Linked DNA regions of Homo sapiens. The protein of the gene in region 2 purifies or fractionates together with the protein of the main gene of each other region. This does not show direct contact. Each region holds a gene or a part of one and is shown on either strand. Other genes may lie near its edges.

Region 1 (4,206 bases), on a different chromosome or scaffold from region 2:
GTGGAAAAATATACAAAGTTCCAGATTAAAATGATTAATAGATGCAATATAATAAGGTTTCCCCTCCTTCCATCCTTTCTTTCTTTCTCTCTTTCTTTCTTCCTTTCTTCCCTTCTTTCTTCCATCCTTCCTTTCTTCCTTTCTTCCCTTCTTTCTTCCATCCTTCCTTTCTTCCTTCCTTTCTTTCTTTCGTTCTTTCTTTCCTTCCTTCCTTCTTTTTTCTTTCTCTTTCTTTCTTTCTTTCTCTCTTTCTTTCTCTCTTTCTTTTTTTTTGTAGACAGTCTTACTCTGTCACCCAGGCTATAGTGCAATGGTGCGAACAAAGGTCAATGCAGCCTCAACCTCCTGGTGTCAAGCCTCCCGAGCAGCTGGGACCACAGTTACACGCTCAGCTAATTTTTGTATTTTGTGTTAAGATGGGGTTTCACCATGCTGCCCAGGCTGCTCTTGAACTCCTGGGCTCAAGGAATCCACCCCTCTTGGTCTCCCAAATTGCTGGGATTACAGACGTGAGCGACCGCACTGGGGCCCTCATTTTTCTTATCAATTAACAATAATGGTTACCTTTAACAGATAGAGGTTGACTTTATTTATTGATTGATTGATTTTTATTTTTAGACAGAGTCTCACTCTGTTACCCAGGCTGGAGTGCAGTGGCATGATCTCAGCTCACTGCAAATTCTGCCTGCCCGGTTCAAGCGATTCTCCAGCCTCAGCCTCCCAAGTAGCTGGTGGGATTATAGGTGCATGCCACCACGCCCGGTAATTTTCTGTATTTTTAGCAGAGACGGGATTCACCATGTTGGTCAGACAGACTGGTCTCGAACTCCTGACCTCAGGTGGTCCAGCCCCTTCGGCCTCCCAAAGTGTTGAGATTACAGGCGTGAGCCACTGTGGCGGGTCGGGGTTGACTTTAAAACACAACCCCCTCAAATGAAAATTGCAGTTTGTTGTTGTTCTTTTTCTTTTTCTTTTCTTTTCCTTCTTTCTTTCTTTTTTTTTTTTTTTCTGAGATGGGGTCTCCTCTACCGCCTGGGCTGGAGTGCAGTGGCTCACTGCTACCTCCACCTCCCGGGTTCAAGCCATCCTCCCACCTCAACTTCCCGAGTAGTTGGGACCACAGGTGCGAGGCCACTAGGCCCAGCTAATTTGTGTGTTTCTTTCTTTCTTTCTTTCTTTTTTGATTAGTTGGTTGCTTTGTAGAGCCGGGGTCTCACTATGTTACCCAGGCGATTTCATCCCGCTGGGTGAGAAGGTTCTGCATTCCTCCGCATACGTTGCTGTGCAGTTGTTACTGAAGGTCGCCTGTAGAGGGCGCCAGAGTCAGCGAAGGGGAGGGCTGCGCTTCCTGGTTCTCTGGGGCACGAGGCTTCTCCTCAGCACTCTGGCGCCCCCAACAGGTTCCCAGTGTTCGGCTGGGGCAGGCACGCTGTGGCTGGCTACTTCCCTTCCTCCCATCCCCCTTGGGCCAAACGGGATCGGTGCTTCTGGTGAGACGCCTCCCCATGCACATCACTCCCAGGTGCCCTAGGGGGCACATTTCCCACAACTCCCAGAGGGCAGGTTTCTAGAAAGTGCCACCAGTGGGGAGGCGCCACAACTTCACTGCCATTTTGTGAGGTGCCGCCGTCTCTCCTCCAGCAAGGTCAGGACTTCAGGACTGTGAGTGGGCAGTTTTTCCCTGGATGCTTTAATTTCGCCCTGGAAAGTGTCCTTTTTCCTCAGAAAGAGTCTTTTCTGTGGTGTTCTCTGTCCGGTGTGTGGGAGGGCTCCCTTGGGGAAGTGGCTTAGCTCTGGGGACACCGCCATGGGCGCCTGTGTCAGCCGCGGGGGAGCGTTTTCCTTGGGCACCCCGTCTCGGCTATGTTGTGGGGCCAGGGGGCTTTTCTTGGGGGCTCTTGTTGGGGGCTCCCTGTCGGTGATGGAAAAGGCGACTTTTCCTGCTGAAATGACCTGAGCCCGGGGGGTGGGGGCCATGCCTTGGTTGCCTGTGTCGGCCTCGGGTGCGGCGGTGTTTCTTTCCCGCTCAGTCGCTGTCCTGAGGGGGGACTCTGCCCTGGGGTCACTATCTGTGCTCATGGAACGTGGTGGGGGTGGCTGTGCCCCGGACACATGATCGTAGCCCTGTGGGGTCACTGTCGGGGGCTTTATCTCAACCTCTGGTGGACTCTTCCTTGGGTACTGATGTCGGCCGTGAGGCGCATTTGTCCTCGGATGTTGCTCGCTCTCAGTTACAATGTGTTGGCTTTTCTTTGGTTCTGCTTATCCCCGTTGTGGACGCTTACTGGATGCTTTCTCTTGGTGCTGGGTTTTTAAAATTATTATCTGTAGGTGCTCTCTCCCGGTGCCGCCGGGGAGTGGGGTAATGTTCCTTGGATTCTCTAAGCCTATGGTGGGACTCAGGGAGCTCTGTGTCAGCCATGAAGGAGGCCACGTGACCTTGGGAACTCTGTCTCGACCCAGGTTGGGGTGCTTTTCCTCGGTTGGTTGATCGCAATTCTGAAGGAGCTCTTTCCTGGGATTCTATCTGACCTTTCAGCCACAGCCTCAGGTGTCTGTGTGGGAATGGGAGTCCAGAAATATTCGAAGGTTCCAGCTGTGCCACATTCGAACACTCGCAGTACAGTTAGTCTTTCATTCCAGCCACTCTGATGGGTGTGCAGTGATCTCTCCTTGTGTCTACACTCGCATTTCTCTGCTGATTAATGAGATCGAGCACCTTTTTAAGAAATTGTTTTTATTTATTGATTTTTGTTTGTCTTTTGAGATGAGGTCTCCCTCTGTCACCCAGACTGGATTGCAGTGCCACCACACCCAGCTATTTATTGTTTTCTTTTTTTTTTTTTTTTTAGCACCATTTTATGTGTTTATTGGTCATTTAACTATGCCTTTTATGAAGTTCCTTTTCAGGTATTTTCCCCCAGCTTTTACTGAGATGTTTGTATTTTAAAAATGGATTTGTAGTTTCCATATATTCTGTATTTGAGTTATACGCACAGGCACACAGGCGTATATGTACATATACAAAAATACATATACAATTTTAGTATCTTCTATAAATCTTTTTTGCTTTTACACGATCTCAATAATGTGTTGTAGATGAACAGATTCTCTTAATTTTATTAATTAGTGTATTATTTATGGATAGTGCTTTTTATTATTTTAAGAAACATCTTTGACTCACCCAATGCCATTACGATAATATTCCTTTTCTTAAAATTATACTTTAAGTTCCGGGATACATGGGCAGAACGTGCAGGTTTGTTACATAGGAAGACACATGCCATGGTTGTTTGCTGCACCCATTGACCCGTCATCTACCTTAGGTATTTCTCTAATGCTATCCCTCCCCTAGCCCCCCAACCCCTGACAGGCCCCACTGTGTGATGTTCTTCTCCCCGCGTCCATGTGTTCTCATTGTTCAACTCCCACTTATGAGTGAGGACACGTGGTGTTTGGTTTTCTGTTCCTGTGTTAGCTTGCTGACACATGTCCCTTCAAAGGACATGAACTCATTCTTTTTTATGGCTGCATAGTATTCCGTGGTGTATATGTACCACATTTTCTTTATCCAGCGTCGTGGCAGGCGCCCGTAATCGCAGCTACTCAGGAGGCTGAGGCAGGAGAATTGCTTGAACCTGGGAAGTGGAGGTTGCAGTGAGCAGAGACTGTGCCACTCCACTGCAGCCTGGGTGACAGAGCGAGGCTCCGACTCAAAAAAAAAAAAAAATGTCTTCCAATGCATGGAAAGAAAATTTTTCTCCATTTACTGCAGTCTTGAATTTCTCTGAGTGATGTTTTATAATTTTTGTGAAGTACTCTAGCACATCTTGATTAGATTTATTCCTAAATATTTGATGTTTTTGGAACTGTTTTTAATGACATTTGAAATCTCATATTCTAATTATTCGTTATACAGAATTGCCATTCTGTATAATGCCATTCATTATACAGAATTGCTATTCATTATACAGAAATGCCATTGGTTTTCATTGTATCTAGTAAGTTGACTAAATTTGCTTATTAACTGTAATGATTTTATTCTTCTGCATTTTTCTATGTACAGAACAATGTCATCTGTGAATAATGACAGTTTTATTTCTTTCCAAATTTTAAACCTATTGTATTTTCCTGATGATATGGCACTTTTTGGAACCTCCAGTAAATTGTTGAATGGATAGTGGACATCTTTGTCTTGTTTTCAAA
Region 2 (4,048 bases):
CTAATTTTCATGAAGCCAATCTAAAAATCGTGTTACTTCTAAGGATGTGGAGCGAGTGAGATGAACAGTTGTGCTGTCATATTGCCCCTCCCCAGTGCAGACAGTGAATGAGGACCCACTGATTTAAAGGCAACACTGCAGCCCCTTCTTGCCTCATTGAAGTCCCAAGTTTTATTACAGTAAAAGCACTTAATGTTGACATTTCTGAAAGAATGAAGAGGCCGGGCGCGGTGGCTCACGCCTGTAATCCCAGCACTTTGGGAGGCTGAGGCAAGCGGATCATGAGGTCAGGACATCGAGACCATCCTGGCTAACACGGTGAAACCCCGTCTCTACTAAAAATACAAAAAAATTAGCCGGGCGTAGTGGCGGGCGCCTGTGGTCCCAGCTACTCGGGAGGCTGAGGCGGGAGAATGGCGTGAACCCGGGAGGCGGAGCTTGCAGTGGTCCGAGATTGTGTCACTGCACTCCAGCCTGGGCGACAGAGCGACAACGTCTCAAAAAAAAAAAAAAAAAAAAAAAGGAAAAAAAGAATGAAGAGCCAGAGCCAGGCATAGTGGCACGCCTGTAGTCCCACCTACTCAGGAGGCTGAGGCGGGAGGATCACTTGAGCCCAGGAATTCAAAGCCAGCCTGTGCAACATAGACCCTGTCTCTAAAAATGAATTGGTTATAAAGGATGAAGAAAGGAAGGAGGAAAGGGAGAGAGAGAAGCCCTTATAGAGTGGGTGCATTTCTTGTATGTGGGGCCACTTTGTAAGAACAGGATTTTTCAAACTGGGCCCATACTGGTATGTGTGAAATCAATTTAGTTGGTTATGGCCATTTTTTTTTAAAAGGAAATATCAGTGATCACTATAGTGTAAGTATATTGTTTCGTGAAAGCCATCTTAGTTATGTATTATGTCTGTATGTGTAAGATTGTGATATAAAATGTATTTCTGTGGTTAAATATTCAAAGAAATTGGAGAACCATTGCTACAAGGGGACAGAGGACTCCGTGTGAGCTCTCCTGCCTTCCCTGAATAAACTTACACAATTTAGTGCTGGGACATTTGAACCTTTTCTGAAAATTTGAGTCAGGGGAGAGCATCTTGGGGAGGTGGGAAGGAAGGTAGAAGGAGCAAAGCAACACCCCCCTGAAGCCTGGGAATATTGTCAGAACCTTAAATATAATTCAGCTCACCATTCTGGGTAAGGACAGACTCTACCAATGAAAATGGGTGATTACCAGCTGTGAAACACAAAAACATACTTTTACGGTTACACATTCCTTTACAAACAACCGTGTACATTTCAGCCTCCTGCCCCACCATTTCTTTTCTCCAGGAGGGAAGGCTGCATGTCGAGATGGTCGTAGAATGTTGAGTATCCTACTTTCCTACCTCGCTTTTATTTGCGCGGGTTTAAATGCGCCTTAACAGAACCCGTGCAAAGGCTTGCCTACTTGTCTGGCTGCACCGGATGAGTAGAGCATCTTCCTTGGTGGCAGGTGGGTGCGAGGAGGAGGGGGCTGGGCTTTTCTCCGGACGGTGTTTGCCCAGAAGACCATCATCCCTGGACTACGTTAGGAGGAAGTGGCACCGCTCCGAGGTAGGGGAAGAAGGGTTATAAAGGGGGGAGTCCACCACACATGGTCTTGAAGAAGCTTTTATAAAAGGCAAAGGCATCTTTGCCGGACGTTGTTGCAAAGGAGTAGAAACAAGCAGAGGAAAACATCCCAAAGGGTAACCACTAGCGTTCCTGCTTCTTGCAACATTCATCCCAGGCTTCCAGCTCAGCCCGCCCCGGGCCAGGTGATCGGCCGCCACATCCCCTGCGACTGAAGCACCTGCTCCGCCATGAACCTGCCAAGAGCTGAGCGCCCTCGCTCCACACCGCAGCGCAGCCTCCGGGACTCCGATGGGGAAGACGGTAAAATCGATGTCCTGGGAGAGGAGGAAGATGAAGACGAGGTGGAAGACGAGGAGGAGGAGGCGAGCCAGAAGTTCCTAGAGCAGTCGCTCCAGCCGGGGCTGCAGGTGGCCCGGTGGGGCGGGGTTGCGCTTCCCCGAGAGCACATCGAGGGCGGCGGCCCGAGCGACCCCTCAGAGTTTGGCACCGAGTTCAGGGCACCGCCAAGGTCTGCGGCGGCCTCTGAAGATGCCCGGCAGCCGGCAAAGCCCCCCTACTCGTACATCGCGCTCATCACCATGGCCATCCTGCAAAGCCCGCACAAGCGCCTCACGCTCAGCGGCATCTGCGCCTTCATTAGTGGCCGCTTCCCCTACTACCGCCGCAAGTTCCCCGCCTGGCAGAACAGCATCCGCCACAACCTCTCGCTGAACGACTGCTTCGTCAAGATCCCCCGCGAGCCGGGCCACCCAGGCAAGGGCACCTACTGGAGCCTGGACCCCGCCTCCCAGGACATGTTCGACAATGGCAGCTTTCTCCGGCGTAGGAAGCGTTTCAAGCGCCACCAACTGACCCCGGGAGCCCACCTGCCCCACCCCTTCCCTCTACCTGCTGCACACGCCGCCCTGCACAACCCCCGCCCAGGCCCTCTGCTTGGGGCCCCTGCCCTGCCGCAGCCAGTCCCGGGGGCCTACCCCAACACCGCCCCCGGGAGACGCCCTTACGCTCTGCTGCACCCGCATCCTCCTCGCTACCTACTGCTCTCGGCCCCCGCCTATGCCGGGGCACCGAAGAAAGCAGAAGGCGCGGACCTGGCGACCCCCGGCACCCTTCCCGTGCTGCAGCCCTCACTTGGTCCTCAGCCTTGGGAGGAGGGCAAGGGTCTGGCGTCGCCACCGGGAGGCGGATGCATCTCTTTCAGCATTGAGAGTATCATGCAAGGGGTCAGGGGAGCGGGTACAGGGGCTGCGCAGAGTTTGTCCCCGACCGCGTGGAGCTACTGCCCCCTGCTCCAGCGACCGTCAAGCCTGTCGGACAATTTTGCAGCAACAGCAGCAGCATCAGGAGGAGGACTGCGCCAACGGCTGCGCTCCCACCAAGGGCGCGGTGCTGGGCGGGCACCTGTCGGCCGCGTCGGCGCTGCTGCGGTATCAGGCGGTGGCAGAGGGCTCTAGGCTGACATCGCTGGCTGCCCCTTTGGGCGGAGAGGGGACCTCACCAGTTTTTTTAGTATCGCCCACGCCCAGTTCCCTGGCCAAGTCCGCAGGGCCCTCCTAGAGCCAGGTGGGAGTGGGGAGCGATCCGCAGCTGCTCACTCCACCTTGCGCGGCCCATACTGGGCGTGTGCATCTGAATCCTGCTGGAGAGCAAACACGAACTTCTGTTCCCTGCAAAATGGTTAGAAAGAAACAGCTGGATTACGTTCCTCTAAAAACCACCTGAACGTAACCTTCGCAGGGCGTCAAGTCATCTTTTCTTGCCTTCGGCTGTGGCTTCTGTGGCTTTCCGGATTTGCACATTTCCTGGGGTACTATGAACGTGAGTGGGGTATTTTGTTCTGGCATTAGAAGAAAAACAAGCAAGCAAACAAAAACACAGCCTCCGATGCCAAACATGTTCCCCCTTCTTCACTTCCTTGGAACTGGAAGTGTTATTCCTAAGTCTAGTGCAAAATGCTTCTACTCTCTGTGTCTTCCTGATAGGGATGTTTAATGTAAGTAGGATATTAATTTCAGAACATTGATTTCTTATCTGTGTGTCTGACGTGCCATCTTTAATGTTAAAATTAAGGTGTTAAAATTAAGCCTAGTTATATAGACGAAATAAAATGCTAAGTCACTACACTACATCGTTATTTTCTATTACGTCTCATTCTTCCCTTTCTAAATGGAACTTTTTAAAACCTACATTATTTTCCCTCAAACAATTTATTTTCACAATTCATATTTATTATAGATAGCAGAAGTAATCCATTTTAATATGGCCTTTAAAAATTCCAAATATTTGAGGTTGAAAATGTCCTGGCTTTTAAAATAGGAAATTTACTATTTATGAGACTTCTAAAAGAAAAGAATAGGAGGGCATGTAAATATATTCTCCATTTATTTTTCCTCACCCCCCAACAAGCTGGAAAACCGTTTGAGATCAATTTGGAA

The links. Proteins that work in one complex are often made in the same cells at the same time.
Region 1: the proteins of FOXD4L1 (region 2) and CT45A2 purify together in Homo sapiens (affinity purification with mass spectrometry, with the first as the bait; one large-scale study listed by BioGRID). This does not show direct contact.

Annotation. Positions count from the first base shown.
Region 1 is NC_000023.11:135,817,213-135,821,418, reverse strand, and holds the start of CT45A2 (cancer/testis antigen family 45 member A2), read left to right. Parts: upstream 1-1,406; 5' UTR 1,407-1,645; exon of another isoform or gene 1,646-1,662; intron 1,663-4,206.
Region 2 is NC_000002.12:113,497,417-113,501,464, forward strand, and holds FOXD4L1 (forkhead box protein D4-like 1), read left to right. Parts: upstream 1-1,248; 5' UTR 1,249-1,840; coding exon 1,841-3,067; 3' UTR 3,068-3,734; downstream 3,735-4,048.